Linked DNA regions of Homo sapiens: region 2 is linked to region 1. Evidence: fine-mapped expression QTL. Tissue or cell type: whole blood. Region 1 holds a variant in brackets; the other region holds the start of a gene. All regions are shown on one strand. Distances are between the middles of the regions.

Region 1 (8,101 bases):
CGGGCAGGCGGATTCCTCGGCCCCGGGGCGCGCGCCGGCCTCGCGAGGCCACTCCCAGGCGCGGGGGCGATTCCAGCGCTGGCGCTGCCGGCCAGCGATTTCCGAGTTCAGTAAGGACGCGGCCGCCCCTGGGAGGCGGCGCCTGGGTGTGTCCCGCGCAGGCTGGGCGCCCAGGGTCCGGGGGCCCGGGGACGGCGGCGCGCGATGGCCGAAGGGCGCCAGGAGAGACCGCGCCAGTCTCTCTGCCCGGGCCGCCCCGGGGCGGGGCGCGTATGTGAACGCTCGAGCCCTCGGGGCTCCTGGAAGTCCTGGAAGTTTCCCAGGATCTCTTTTGGCGAGGCCCAACCTCTCCACCTGCGCTGGAGCCCTGGGGTCCAGTCCGGCTTCCAGGGAAACGCATCACCCTGGAAACTGCCTGTGCTTAACGTCTCCCTTCCCTGGAACATCTACTTTGATCTTTTTGAGAAACTGCCATTGACAGCCAGGCATTTATTTGGAAATCTTTACACCCTCTCACTGTAATCTATTTTGCGAGCCAAAAATCCTCCCTTTCTTCAGTGGTTCCCTAGATCAGTATTGCTGAAAGGCCTCTTGATGTCCGGATAGGTTTCCGCGGGCACACTACTTCAGATGGGGTCTGATGCCGCCAGCTACTGTAGAAATCCTCAACCCCGACTGAAGCGTGCTCGGATTACACTGTCTTCCTACTGCGGCAGCTTCCCACTGCTTATACTGAACTTGTCATCACTTAAAACCAGTTCAGGTCTTCCCTATGCTTCCTACTGATAGAGCAGCCTTTTCCAACCCAGGTATAGGTGACGTTTACCTATTACATTTGTTTTGATACATAATTTAGAAGCCATAAAAAAGCCATGATGATCCCATGAGATTATCTTGAGTCCTGATGTGACTTTCCATCTGTCATTTCCCCTCAGCCTCCTCTGCTGAACAGACATGGCAGCTTTGCCTTCTGGCTTCATCCAAATGGCTAAAAGTTGTTGTGGAAATGTTTAAAACCAAAGTCTAACTCTTCTTGCAAAATGTTCCTGTAGATTTTCATCAAGCTTCTAATCATCAGCTGTAAAATATGTTCCTTCCACCAACTGGGAAGAAACAGAACACTTCAATGATGTAACCAACATTTCACCTTATCTATCTATATATTTCTTATCTGTAATGAAATCATGGGAGATTCTGTTAGTTTTTGATAAAATCCAGATATGCTATGTTCACAGCCATTCTCCAGCCTTCCAATTTAGTAATCCTGTCAAAAAAGAAAATCATAGTAGTTTGAGTCTATTTTTACTGAAATCCTTTTAGGTCTCTAAGAATCACCTTATTTTTTCCTAAATGCTTACAAACTTCTATTTAATAATTTATTCTAGAATATTACTTATGTGTAGATTGAGGAATTGAGGAATCCTTTTTCTCCTTTTTTTTTTTTCTTTTGAAAGTCAGGATATTATCCAGTCTCCAGTCTTTTCTATACCTGCTCACACTTTCTTTGCCTTGGCTCTGAGGCTCATCTGAAATGTCTTTCAGTACTGAGGACTTTCGGTACTTTATCTGGCCTGGACACTCAAACCACTTTAAAACAAACGTGCTGTGCCTCTTTACTTTCATCCATCTTGGGGCTGCATTTCCTTCTCTGTGCTGCTTACCTTCCCTAATTTAAACCCCATGTTCTGAAAGATGCGTAGAATTTAGACATTTCCAGTGAAGAAGATAGCGTGAACAAAGGTGTAGAGATCCACTCACCCAATATTTATTTACTGAGATCTTACTATGTGCCAGGTACTGTTGTAGACACTACCCGTGGCTCATGCCTATAATCCCAGGACTTTGGGAGGCCACGGTGGAAGCATTATTTGAGCCCAAGAATTCGAGACCAGCCTGGGCAACATAATGAGACCCTGTCTCTACAGATAATTTTTTAAAAATAAAATTAGCTGAACATGGTGGTGCGTGCCTGTAGTCCCAGCTACTTGGGAGGCTGAGGTGGGAAGATTGCTTGAGCCCAGGAAGTCAAGGCTGCAGTGAGCTGTGATCATGCCACTACACTGCCTGGGTGGCAGAGCAAGACCCTGTCTCAAAAAATAAATTAACTAAGGCCGGGCACGGTGGCTCACACCTGTAATCCCAGCACTTTGGGAGGTCGAGGCGCGGATCACCTGAGGTCAGGAGTTCGAGACCAGCCTGACCAACATGGAGAAACCCCATCTCTACTAAAAATACAAAACTAGCCGGGTGTGGTGGCGCATGACTGTAATCCCAGCTACTCGGGAGGCTGAGGCGGGAGAATGGCTTGAACCCGGGAGGCGGAGGTTGCGGTGAGCTGAGATCGCGCCATTGCACTCCAGCCTGGGCAACAAGAGCGAAACTCCGTCTCAAATAAAAATAAAATAAAAATAAATTAAGTAAGTAAGTAAATAAATAAGTGGTGAAGGAAGGCCTCTTGGAGAAGGCATCATTTGAGAAAAGATTTAAAGGAGGTGAGGGCACAAGCTATGCAGACCTCTAGATAAACATTTCTAGGAAGAGGGATCAAAAATGAAAATATTCTGGGGTGTGTGTGTGCCTGTGTGTGTATGTAGTGGGTGATGGGATAAGGCCTCTCCTTCTCCTGGAGGCCACTGTGGCTGGAGCTGAGTGAAAAAGAAGAAAATGGTAGGAGATGCAGTGTAGGTGGTCTTCGGAAAAGAATGGGAAGCCAGATCCTGCGGGCCATCTGGGAGAGGATGGCTTTTGTTCTGTGGGAGATAAGGAACCACTGGAGGGCTTGGAGCAGAGGTGTGACATCGGGCTTCCATTTTTTTTTCAGTACTACTTTCACTGCTTTATTAGGAATAGATTGTAAGGGATGCAGTAGAAGCAAGAAGTCAGGTGGCTGGTTATGGGGTTATTGTCTTCTGAAAGCCACGTAAAGAAAGTGAAAGGTGATGGTGACCAGTGAAAGTGGTGAAAAATGATCAAGATTTACAGACAGTTGAAGGCAGAGCTATAGGACTTGCTGATGGATTCAGTGTGATGTGAGAGAGAGGAGTTAAGGCTCTCTCCAGGTTTTTGGCCTCAGCTAAGTAAGAAATTGGCCTCACCTGACAAGGAAAACAGTGAATGGAGCATGTTTTGTTGG[G/T]AGATGGGCTTGGGGGTGGAGGGTAGGAACTTGGTTTTAGACCTGTTAAATTTAAGATTCTTTAAGACATTGAAGTGGCGAGGCTAAGTTAGGTAATTTAATATAGGACTCTGGAGTTCAGTTGAGTAAAACATATAAAGTCCTGAAACTGGACAACATACCAAGGAAGTGAATGTAAATTTAAAAGACAGAGAGAGGCCCAGAGACTGAACCTTGGGGAGACTAAATATTTAAAAGTCAGAAGATAAGATGAATGCAAACAGTGAGGTGAGGTAGGAAGAAAACCAGGGGAGTGTGGTGGCCTGGGAGCCAAGTAAAGTGCTTCGAAGAGGAGAGAGTGACCAGCTAAGTCAGTGCTGCCCAGACCTAAAAACATGAGGACTGAGAAACAAATGCTGGATTTAGCAACAGTAAAGTCACTGTTGGCCCCAACAGAGATGATAATGAATGGTTTATATTTGGAAGACAGTAAGTTAGCAAGAGTAGGTTTATACTGAGAAATAGTGGAAGATCTGGATAAAGGGAGGCCAGAAAATGGAATGCTTTAGGTGCCAAATTGGAGAGTTTGGCCTTTGCCTTATAGAAAAATTACAAATAAAGGTATTTATATGGGACAAGAATAAAGCCAGTGTTTTTGAAAGTTTGCCTGATAGTAGTGGATGAGGAGAGGAGGGTCTTGATGCAGTAAGACCAGTCAGGAGTTTGTTCTAAAATTGAAGCTTATCAGGAGGGTAAAAACAAAGATGGAGGAAAATGAATAGATGTAGGATGACTGATAGAACATAGAGAATGAGAGAACAGACACCTAAAATGATTCCGATGCTGCCTGAGAGAAGGATGGTACCAGCAGCCATCTCTGGGCTTCAGGTTAATATGAACTAGCTTTAGAGATGGGCTGTCCTTGGAAAGTTTGAGACACAGGAATTGTCCCCAGGTATGCAAAGCTGAAATAAGTTTTAGGGATCAGGAATATTTGTTGGACATATCGGAATCTCATACTAAGTCTGGGATATAAAGGCTGGAGAAAGAGATACACTAAAGCACAGAGGCCATTCTTCGTGGGGAAAGAGATTGCGGGAGCCCTGGGAGATTCTGTGATGGGGCTATGATCTAGATCCTTCACAGGTCAGGCCCAGCAGAGGGAGCATTCTCACAGGTGATACAATTATTACAATTATGAAAGATAGGCAAGACAGTTGTAAACAACTCTCCCCTCCTTAGGGAAAAAAAATGGATCTGCTGGCTTTTAGAGGAAGTCAGTAAGATTTAGGGAATGAGAAAATCAAAACCTGATGTATTAATCATTTTTCAATTTGTTTTGGTAGTTCTACCCTAGAACATGTAAAAGTTGTAGAACTTTAGAATAAGAAAAGAATGTACAGATAATTGAACTATTTACTACTCTTTTACAGGTAATGAAATTGAGGCTCTAAGAGCTTCAGTGCTATTTAAGAAGTCACTCTTCTAGTTCATTTCAGCTTGACAGATGTTTATTGAACTCCTATTTGCCAAGTACTGTGCAAGGTGCTGAGAATACAAAGGTGAATAAATGACAAGAGAGGTTATTAGGCTGCAGATCATAGAAGACCTTATAGGCCATCATAAGGATTCAGGTCCTTATGATAAAAGGATTGGGAAGCCTTTGATGTTTGGATTGTTTGTTTGTTTGTTTTGTTTGTTTGTTTTTTTGAGAGGGAGTCTGGCTTGTTGCCCAGGCTGGAGTGCAGTGGCACAATCTCTGCTCACTGCAACCTCCACCTCCCTGGGTTCAAGTGATTCTTCTGCTTCAGCCTCCTGAGTGGCTAGGTCTACAGGTGCCCACCACGCCCAGCTAATTTTTGTATTTTTAGTAGAGACGAGGTTTCACCATGCTCGCCAGGCTGGTCTTGAACTCCTGACCTCAGGTGATCCGCCTACCTCGGCCTCCCAAAGTGCTGGGCTTACAGGCTTGAGCCACCGTGCCCGGCCATTGAAGTGTTTTAATGGGGAGGGCTATGAGATGGCATGATCAGGTTTGTGACTCCAAAAGATCATTTGAATCTATTTCTTTTTTTTCTTTTCTTTTCTTTTTTTTTTTTTTTTTTTTTTTGAGACAGAGCCTTGCTTTGTCACCCAGGCTGGAGTGTACTGGTGCAATCTTGGTTCACTGCAACCTCCGCCTCCTGGGTTCAAGCAATTCTCCTACCTCAGCCTCTCGAGTAGCTGGGATTACGGGCACGCGCCACCATGCCCAGCTAATTTGCTGATTTTTGGGTATTTTTAGTAAAGATGGGGTTTCTCCATGTTGCCCAGGCTGGTCTTGATCTCCTGACCTCAGGATCAGATCAAGTGATCTGCCTGTCCTGGCCTCCCAAAGTGCTGGGATTACAGCTATGAGCCACCACGCCCCGCCTTTGACTCTATTTCTGAGAATAATCAGGAGAGGAGCAAAAGATATGGATTGGAGAGATATTTAGAAGTAAAATTGACAGGACTTGGTTATTGATTGACTTTGGGATCCAAGAAAGGGAGAAGTCAGGATTGACCCCTAGGTTTCTGGAGTGGATTTTACTGAGATAATTATCTTTTTTTTTTGGACCTACATTACATTTCAGATTACTTTCAGATCTCTACCTAGAAACATCAAGAAGGCAATGAAATAGACAAGATTATGAATACACTAGGTGTGAATTAGACCATATAGAGGGCCCTATATGAAGTGAGAACAAAATGCCTAAGAAAGAGCTCCACAAATTTTAATGACCAGATAGGGGAGGAGCCTGCAGAGAAGACCAAGAAAGAGCAACCAGAATTAGGAGTAGGCGGCTCTAGGCACACTGCCTAGGAGTCAGCCCTGCTCCCTGGGGAGCCACTCTGGAAATTAATAATAATAATAAGCAGAATTAGGAATAAAACCAGGATATTGTAGTGTTATAGCAGCCAAGGAAAGAGAGGACAGTCAGATGTTGCAGAGAGGTCATTAAGATGAAGACTGAAAAATGTCTGCTGGATTTAACAAAATAGAAGTTTGCAGAGTGATAGGTAGGGAAAACCAGAGGAAGTGGGTTGAAAAATGAGTAAGAGGAGGCTGGGCATGGTGGCTCACACCTGTAATCCCAGCACTTTGGGAGGCCAAGGCAGGTGAATCACCTGAGATCAGGAGTTTGAGACCAGCCTGGCCAACATGATGAAACTCCGTCTCTACTAAAAATACAAAAATTAGCTGGCTGTGGTGGTGCGTGCCTGTAATCCCAGCTACCTGGGAGGCTGAGGCAGGAGAATTGCTGAGCCCAGGAGGCGGAGGTTGCAGTGAGCCAAGATTGCACCACTGCACTCCAGCCTGAGTGACAGATCGAGACTCTGTCTCAAAAAAAAAAAAAAAAAGTAGGAAGAGAGGATATAAAGATGATAAGTATGGACAGCTCTTGAGAAATGTTACTGTGAAGGGGAGGAGAGATAAGTAGAGGGTGTGTGTGTGTGTGTGTGTGTGCATGTGTAGGAGTGATTTGAATGTTTAAAAGGATTCAGTTGAGAAAAAGAAATGGTATGCAGGACTGAGAAAAATTGTAAGAGATGGAATTTAGAAACATTTAGGTACAGTAGACTTAGAGAAGAAAAATAGTTGAAAGGTATGAGAAGAGGATATGCAAATGTAGACAGGTTTTTGTTTTGGGTTTTTTCTTTGTTTGTTTGTTTGTTTGTTTGATTCCTTGTTTTTGAGACAGGGTCTCTCTATGTTGACCAGGCCAGAGTGCAGTGGCGCCATCATGGCTCACTGCAACCTCGACCTCTTGGGCTCAAGCGATCATCCCATCTCAGCCTCCTGAGTAGCTGGAACTACAGGCTCGAGCCACCACACCCGGCTAATTTTTAAATTTTTTGTAGAGACGAGGTCTCACTGTGTTGCCCAGGCTGGTCTCAAACTTCTGGGCTCAAGCAGTCCTCCTGCCTCAGCCTCCCAAAGTGCTGGGATTACAGGCGTAAGCCGCTGCCCCTGGCCTACATAGGTTTTTATGTTTGATGGCTGAAGGAAGGAACAAATGGTAGGTGGAAACAAACACATCTGTGAATGAAGAAATTTAAATCAAGACAAATAACAGCACTGGTCCTCAATGAGGACAAAGTCCTTAACATAACTTATATATAATTTTATATATAAAATATTTATAAGATAAAAGGGTCTAAACTCTTTTATATAAATATGAAATAAGATTACATATGTTTGTGTATATATATATATAAATAATACAAAGACCTGTTGATATAAGGTCCTTAAATAATTTAGAGAAGAGGTACTTCTAAATTTCTAGATAATACCAAAATGTTTTAGTACTACTCTGGAGATCAAGGTGAACTCTCCAGGTTGATTGGTGAAGAGGCCAAGTGTATTTCATTTTAGACATTTTAGACATGTTTGAGAAAAAGACATTTGGAGAAAAAATTTCACACCATATTTATAAGATGAAAGAGTCTAACTATTAGCAATGTCTCAGTAAAGGGACCTGAGAGTTGTATATTCTTTGCCAGGAATGTCCAACACTTTGGACACTTTGGCAAAGAGACCAACTAAGTACATCCTCAGGAAGAAGCTGAGGCAGAAAATATCAAACAGCTTCTGACTGGTTTAAAATATATACGTATATTTAAATCCCAAGGTGTCTTCACACATTAAACAGTCATCCCTCAGTAACCATGGGGGATTGGTTCTAGGATCTCCCAAGGATACCACAATTCAAAGATGCTCAAGTCCCTGATATAAAATGCTATAGTATTTGCATATAACCTATGCACATCCTCTGTATGCTTTAAATCATCTCTAGATTACTTATAATACCTAACATAATGTAAATGCTACATAAGTAGTTGTTATATTTTATTGCTTAGGGAATAATGACAAGAAAAAAAGTTGGTACGTGTTCAGTACAGATGGAGGTTGAATCTACAGATGCAGAGCCCATGGATATGGAAGGCCAGCTGTACTATGTTGAA
Region 2 (8,101 bases), 100 kb after region 1:
AGGATTGCTTGAGCCCAGGAGTTCAAGGCTGCAGTGTATTATCATGGCACCACTTTGCTCTAGCTGGGTAACAGAGTGATATATATTATATAAATATATATATATAATATAATATAATATAATCCTGATCATGTCCCTCCTTCCCAAAAATCTTCAGCCACATTGAGTACAAACTCTCAGGCAGGATTTGAGCTCAACCTCCTTTTTGAAGATCCTCCATTCCTCTGCCTCCTTCCTGGGTCTCAGGCCAGGGGTTTTCAAACCCGTCCACAGAGCTTGTGTTCACTGGGGGAGCAGGGAGCAGCTGAGCACCTGTGGGTAGACAAGGCATGAGGCTCTAGCACCTGCTCCCATCATAGCAGCTCTGATTTGATTTCACACATTTCAGGTAAGATTTCATTAAAAAAAAAAGGTTCTGTTGCTTAAAAACAAACATTTGAAATGAACTATCTTAGTCCAACAGGATGGCACATCTCAGTCAAGGACTCTCAAATCTGTTTGCTTCTCTTTTATTTACTTCAACTGATGTTTATTGATCACTTGCTATGTCCCAGGCACTGGGGATAAGACAGACTGCCCCTCCCTAGAAGGCTTACAGTTCAGAGGAGTGATGATGAATATTTGAATAAATTAAGGAACAATATCTTTCCCTTTCTTTCCCCTCACACGTCTTTTGTGGTTAATCTCAGATGCCATGGACTTTATAAATCTTTTGATCTGCCTTTCCTACTGACCAGAAGAACTCCCTTCTCCATATAAAATTTTGTGTGTGGAGGATGTTGGTTGTTTTTCCTGTTCATTTTCCATTCTCTCACCTTCTGGTGGTAGTGGTTGGAACATTCTTTGGGGAACAACCCTCCCCCACCTTCTCCCTCCCAGTTCACTGGGTTCTGGTTAGTCTCCAGGAGTGGGCAAGTGACCCCAAGCCTGGCCAGCTGGCACCTAGAACCTCCTTAGCCACAGCAATTGGTTCAGATCTGGCCACCGTCTGACTCCAATGATTGGTTTGGGATGGATGAATGATCACAAATGTCTCACAGCGAATCCCAGACGTGTAGGAGCCTCAGGAAACAGATGCTCTCTTTTCAGCTGAATTTAAGCCTGAAAAGATATAGACCCAGAATTTTGGGCAGCAATTTCGTTACACTGTGGAGAGTGAAGCCAACGTGGAGGAAAGTAGAGCCAAGTGATGGGAAGAGACTGGATATTCCTGACACTCAATGAGTGGGTTAAGCCACATCTAAAGCTTGACCCCTGGCTCATTTGTTTGTATTGGCTCAGTTCCAGGAGCCGATGCATTTCCCCTTTTGCTTTAGTACTTTTCAGTCAGCTTTTCCAAAAGAATGTTGAAATGATTTGCCATAGCAAAACATTTCTAATCTGGACTCTCTAAGAGCTCAAGACTGGTATGTCTCTGGGTCCAGCCAGCCTGCCATGTAGGAGTCTCACCCTTTCTCAAGTTCTGTGTTCTGAAGCCTTCAGGAGATCTGTTTATGTGTGATCAGCAAGTTAATCCTTTGCCATTTCCTTCTCTTCCACTGGGCTTTCCCCAGAGGGGGCAAGAAGGGAACCCTGTTTTTTGTTTGTTTGTTTGTTTGTTTGAGACAGAGTCTCGCTCTGTCGCCCAGGCTGGAGTGCAGTGGCACGATCTCGGCTCAGTGCAAGCTCCGCCTCCCAGGTTCAGGGCATTCTCCTGCCTCAGCCTCCTGAGTAGCTGGGACTACAGGCGCCCGCCACCATGCCCGGCTAATTTTTTTGTATATTTAGTAGAGACGGGTTTTCACCGTGTTAGCCAGGATGGTTTCGATCTCCTGACCTCGTGATCTGCCCCCCTTGGTCTCCCAAAGTGCTGGGATTACAGGCGTGAGCCACCGCGCCTAGCGGGAACCCTGTTTTTATGGAAGCAGGGAGTGGTAAGTCCAGCCGGGCAAGTCCAGCCATCCAGCAAAGCAGCTGATTATATCTATATCTATCTATATCTATATCTATATCTATATCTATATCTATATCTATATCTATATCTATATCTATATCTATCTATATCTATATCTATCTATAGATAGATAATATTGGCCAGGCGTGGGCCACGCCTGAAATCCCAGCACTTTGGGAGACCAAGGCGGGTGTATCGCCTGAGGTCAAGAGTTTGAGACCAGCCTTACCAACATGGTGTAACCCCATCTCTACTAAAAATACAAAAATTAGCCAGATATGGTGGCAGACGCCTGTAATCCCAGCTACTCCGGAGGCTGAGGCAGGAGAATCGATTGAACCCAGGAGGCAGAGGTTGCAGTGAGTCGAGATCATGCCATTGCACTCCAGCCTGGGTGACAGAGTGAGACTCTGTCTTAAAAAAAAAAAATTAAAATAAATAAATAAATAAATAAATAAAAATAAAAAATTATACATATTTGTAATGCTTTTTAAGAGATGGGGTCCCACTATGTTGCCCAGGCTGGACTTGAACTTTCGGGCTCAAGCAATCCTCCCACCTTAGCCTCCCGAGTAGCTGGGACTACAGGTGTGCACCACCATGCCAGGCCAATTTGTGTGTGTGTGTGCGTGTGTGTGTGTGTTTTGTTGAGACAGGGTTTCATGTTGCCCAGGCTGGTCTCCAACTCCTGAGCTCAAGAGCGATCAGTCCCCCTTGGCCTCCCAAAGTGCTAGGATTACAGGCTTGAGCCACTGCACCCAGCCATCTTTTTTTTAGACGTAGTTTCGCTCTTGTTTCCAAGGGTGGAGTGCAATGGTGGGGTCTCAGCTCACCACAACCTCTGCTTCCCGGGTTTAAGCGATTCTCCTGCCTCAGCCTCTCAAGTAGTTGGGATTACCGGCATGTGCCACCATGGCCGGCTAAATTTTGTATTTTTAGTAGAGATGGGGTTTCTCCATGTTGGTCAGGCTGGTCTCGAACTCCCAACCTCAGGTGATCCACCCTCCTAGGCCTCCCAAAGTGCTGCGATTACAGGCGTGAGCCACCGCGCGCAGCTGCTCTTTATGACTGCAAATATGGGGCACTTGCCTTGTGCCAGGCACTATGCTGGGCATTTTACCCTCATTCTTATAGGTAATCCTCATAGCAACTTGAGGAGTGGAGATAATTACAGTATTCCCACTGAACAAATGAGAAAACTGAAGCTCAGAAAGGCCAGTGACTGGACCAAGTTAATGATTGCACGGTTAGTTAGTGACAGAGCTGGGGTTTCACGACGTGTTTAAGCACCGCCCCATCAGTTGTGGCCACTAGGCTTAGGCGGATAGCCTCGCAGAGGAGCCTAGGTGGGGAGGGGGACGAAGAAGGAACATTTGGGACTGTGGGATGTTGAAATGGTCTCTTCGGAGGCTGCCGGGATTGAAACTGGGCAAGGTCCCAGGGCCCGAGTAGAGCCAGAGCGTGCTACGCGGCGATCCCTGAGCCACGGGGTTTTCAGCGCCCGGGAAGCCAGGCTTGCCAGGTTGGGGCGGCTGGCGGGGCAGGGCTTCTCGGTCCGTCCCAAGTCCAGGTAGGCGCTCGCGACCCGCGCGGGCAGGGAGAACGCGCTCCCACAGTGCTCGCGAGGTGCAGTGCGCCCCTGGGGGCTCCGGGGCCGTCGGGCCAGGTCGGCTTGGCGCCCAGGGACTGGCCGGACGGGCTGGGCCTTTGGCGGGGGTGGAAGAGGAGGTTGCCGCGCCCTGCCCGGCCCAGGTGTCGTCTCCGGGGGCGGGGTTTGGAGCCCCGCAGCGGGAGATTCCCGGCCGGACTGGCGGACGAGCGTCGAGAGACAGAAGCCGAGGAGAGGAGGCTAAGCCGGGCGGCGCGGGGAGCGCACTGAGCAGGCAAAGTCGCAGGGCCGCCAGCATGTTCTCCCGAAACCACCGGAGCCGGGTCACCGTGGCCAGGGGCTCCGCCCTGGAGATGGAGTTCAAACGCGGCCGCTTCCGACTCAGCCTCTTCAGCGACCTGCCCGAGGTGAGAGACTCGCGTCCCTGCCTTCCCCTTCCGCGGCTCCCGGGGGCAGCCCCAGCCACCTCGGCCTCCTTCCCTCGCCCGCGTGCACGCCGAGGGGCGGAGACGCACGGTCTGGGTACAAACCCGACGGAGTTGTTGACTTAAAAAGTAAGGTGTGGACGGTCTGCATTTTCATCGGATCCATGCTGCCCATTCCGCGGCCTGGTTAGGATTATCTGCCTGAGCCTGGAAAAAGCCCGGGTTGGTCTCAATTTGTAGGGCCCCAGCTCGACTCCTAAAATGTGCCTGAACCCCAAAATGTCTTGGGCATCCCCGGGCCAAGGGCGGTGGGCAGCTAGGCGGGCCCCAAGCGCTCGGACTCTTGGCCTGGGCTCCCGCTTGTTCCCCAGTCGCCAGCCCCATCCCACAACCTGTCGCAGCCATCTGGGCCAGCCTCTGTCATCAACCCCGACTTTAGGCCGGGGCCGCTCGCTTCCCCGAAGCCCAATTCAAAGGCTCCTCTATGCCCCTGCAGGGCTTTTAACTCCTTGGGGTTACTTCCCACACGCAAAATTTCCGCCTCCTTTTCTGGGGCCTAAGAGGAGTCCAGCCCCTAGGCTGAGCGTTTCCCCCGTCCGCCGTCCACGCGTTAACCTGTTGGATCCCCACCTGTAACGCCCTAAGGGCTAGGGCGGGGCTGAAGGTGTGTGGTTGAGCGGGGACTGAGAGGGCGAATAGCTACCCCGAAGACTCTTCTGTCCCCAAGGTCAGACTCACACTCGCCCAAGGAGAGCCCAGTTCCAAGCCTTCCCTTCCGGGTCTGGAAAGGGTTAAGTGAGGTGGGCCTTCCTTCCGCCCCCTCTACCTCCCGGCTGGGATTCCAGGCCTGGCTTCTGCCCTTTCCCTCCAGCCTGCCCAGAACAAAGAGGCTCTTTCACACCCTTGTCCCGGCGTCCCGGGCCTTCTCTGACTCAGAAGCTAGTGGACCTGGGGAGAGGGGGCCTTTGTCGCGTCCCCTTGCCCCCAAGCGACTGGGCCCGAGGAACCCGCGTGGGGCCAGCGTGGGGGAGTAAGGGGCGAGGCCCGGGACCAGGGGGAGGGGCCTGTGAGCTGGGGCCGCCCCTGGGATTAGCCCGGCCTTCGGGGACAGCTCGGAGGAGCTGGGGCGGAGCCGCAGGGCCTGGCGGCCGCCGAGTGAAGTGTGACTCCGTGGGCCTGGCGTGGAGGCGGGGGCGCTAGGCTGCAGCTGGCTCGGAATCGGGGCTGGTTTCCTGTCTGGAAGGGAAGGGGCCTGCAGAAGGGAGCGGGGACAGCAGCAGACAGGCACACCCCTGCCTTCCTCTCTCCCTCTCCTCCCTTCTCTGGAAAAGCGAGGTAATTGTGAGCCCAGGGTGGAGCGGGCTGGATGGGGGCCCTGAGTTGGAAGGGGTGGCCCTAGGGCTGGGCTGCTTTGCCAACTCACCCCTTTGTCCCATTCCCTGGGCTCACTCTCCCCTGAGGTCCTCACCTGTGTGGCTCTTTTTCCCAACTTTCTCAAACTAAGCTGGAACCCCTCTCGGGAAGCTCCAACCTCCTGCAAACCCCATGACTCTAGAACCTGCATGAGGCGTCGTTTCCCTGCCCCCTTCCAGTTGTGCCTGCCCCTCACTGCCCTCTCCGCACACAGATTCCCTGTCCACCAGGCCAGGGATGTGGGCGGGGGCTGGGGAGCGGCCAGAGTCGGAATGAAAGGGCCTTTTTCTTCCACAGCTGGGAGAACAGCTGCCACCAAAGCGAGACTGGACACTCTGTGCCTAGAGCCCCCTCTGCAGCTGGCCTTTCCTCCTGGGACCCCACTTATCCTCACTTCGCTTTCTTTTTCTTCCCTGCCTGGCTCCCGGCAGGGCCCCGGAGCAGCAGTGGGCGAGGAAAATTTGTCACAGCAGCCAGAGGGGTTTAACAGGAGTGCAGAGGGATAAGGGCAGCTTCTGCCCTCTGCCCAAGAGCTGGCCACCTCTTTAAAGACTGAGGGAACAGTGGGAGGAGGAACTGTGGGACAGTGTGGTACCTATCTGTCCCCCCTCTGGAGGGGTTGACAAGGGAAAGGGCACCGGGGGGCACAGAGATGCAGGACAGATTGCACATCCTGGAGGACCTGAATATGCTCTACATTCGGCAGATGGCACTCAGCCTGGAGGTAATCCCCCGACCCTTGGAGTACACACCTCCTTCACTTGCATCCCAGCCCCAATCTCTGCCCTGCCCATTCCTGCTACAGCATGGTGGGGAGAGCCAGGCCTGCTTAAAGTGGGAAGAGGGACAGGTGGTTCCCTATGCCTTGTGTTGGGTGCAGTGTGTGGACCCAGGCTCAGTTCTGCCCATCATAGTCTTATGTTTGCAGCAGGGTCTTTACACCTATTTCAGGAAGCTCTGTGGGTGAGTGTAAATGTCTGTTCTGGGGACAAGGGTTCCTTTTAGGCATGGGAAGAAGAGAGGAGTTCAATGTGAGAGAGGTTTACAGAAAGGATGTAGCCTTGCTAGAGAAGAGAAGGACTCTGGGCTATGAGTAAGGATTCTGCTGGCCCTTGAGACAGCAAGGTGCTGTTTATTCGTGTATTTGTTTTTTTCAATTCTTTACAGAGACGAGGTCTCACTATATTGCCCAGGCTGGTCCTGGCTCAAGTGATCTCCCTACCTCGACCTCCCAAAATGCCGAGATTACAGGCGTGAGCCACTGCACCTTGCGCTATGTATTATTAAACACATGTAAATTTTATGTACTATCTGCCAAGCTCTTTTCGACCATAGGATACCTCAGTGAATAAGACAAGAAAGTTCCATTGTAGTGGGAGAACAGAAATATACATACGAACACATAAATAATATCACATAAAGAAATTATGATGAAAATGGGGATGTAATGAAAATCAGATGAGGGAGGCAATGTTAGATGTGGAGGTCAGGGGAAGCCTCTGTTGGGAGATCTTTGAGCTAAGCCCAGGAGGATTTGGAGATATGTGAAGACTGGAGGAAGGGCAAAGGCCCTGATATGAGGATGAGGGTAATATATTTGTGGGAAAGAGAGAGCCAGTGTGGCTGGAATATAGTAGTTGGGGTGGAGCTGATGGGCAGGGGCCAGATCATGCAGGGCCTTGAAGGCCATGATAAGGCACCTGGATTTCACCTTAAGTGTGATGTTGGGCCATGGAAGGGTTTTAAGCAAGGGAATGACTCATGCCATGTTTTTAAATGATGGCTGCTATGGAGAATAGGCTGGTGGGAAGTTGAGGGTAGGGTTGGGGGTGGAGGGTTGGCAAGAGAGTTCGCAAATGTCCACCAGGTGGGAGGCTGTTTCACTCCCACTTCAGGTGGGAGTGAACCTGGTGGTGTGAATTAAAATGCTCATGGTGGAGAAAGGGAGTAGATTTCAAATGGTGGTGGTAGGTCTGACAGGATTTGCTGATGGATTGGATGGGAGGGCAAAGAAAGAGAACTCCAGGATGATTCCCAGGTATGTGGCTAAGCAACTGGGTGGTGTGGCTGTTTACGGAGATGGGGAAGATGGAGGAAGTTGTGGAAGTGACTGCCTGGACCAGGCAGGGGCTGCTGCTGAGAGGTCAGAGGCAGGACTGCAAAGAGTCTAGATCAGGAATGGCAGGATATTGTATGTGCTGTCCCCCCTCAAGCCCTGCCCCCACTCCCTGGATCATAGTAGATGTTACTGGTCAATTTTGGCACTCTTTATCAACGAGCCCAGACCTGGCCTCAGAATCTTTCTCAGGACCGTCTTGGCATAAACTGTGCAGGTTGTGTCCTTCACACAGGTGCCAGCCAGAGGTGAGAGTCCTGGTCTGGTTTCAGCGGCATCAGGAGGGAGCACGTTTATCTAATTTGTTTGCCTGGAGAGGGTCAGCTTTTTCTAATTTGTGGAAAGGTGTCCAGTGAACTCGTTGGGACTCTACCTAATTATCCTCCATCAGTGCATGAGATAAAACCTATTTGCCATTCATAGTCCTCTGCACTGTCCACATCAGTTACATATGGCTATTTAAATCTTACTTTTAGTTCATTAAAATAAAACAAAACATTAATTCCTTAGTTGCTGTAGCCATATTTCAAGTGCTAGATGGCTACTGAACATTTCCATCACCGCAGAAGGTTTTATTGGACAGAGCTGGTCTAGGTATGTAAATG

What was found. PIP is the estimated chance that this variant, and not a neighbour inherited with it, causes the effect.
Region 2: RTKN starts here. The variant in region 1 is fine-mapped to the expression of RTKN in whole blood (TOPMed, PIP above 0.99).

The regions. Positions count from the first base shown.
Region 1 is chr2:74,541,022-74,549,122 of GRCh38, reverse strand. The region is part of intron 4 of LOXL3 (lysyl oxidase like 3); the gene reads left to right. It also overlaps a transcript of DOK1 not described here. Among named protein-coding and RNA genes, the nearest start is that of LOXL3, 8.9 kb to the left of the region's middle. RefSeq lists a silencer at 27-346 and an enhancer at 2,908-3,077. The variant G/T (reference allele first, on the strand shown) is at 3,134.
Region 2 is chr2:74,437,554-74,445,654 of GRCh38, reverse strand. RTKN (rhotekin) reads left to right here and starts at 3,718. Exons shown (of 12, transcript NM_001015055.2): 1 at 3,718-3,949. The coding sequence starts at 3,839. RefSeq lists silencers at 3,628-3,707, 4,018-4,077, 4,793-5,102 and an enhancer at 5,530-6,267.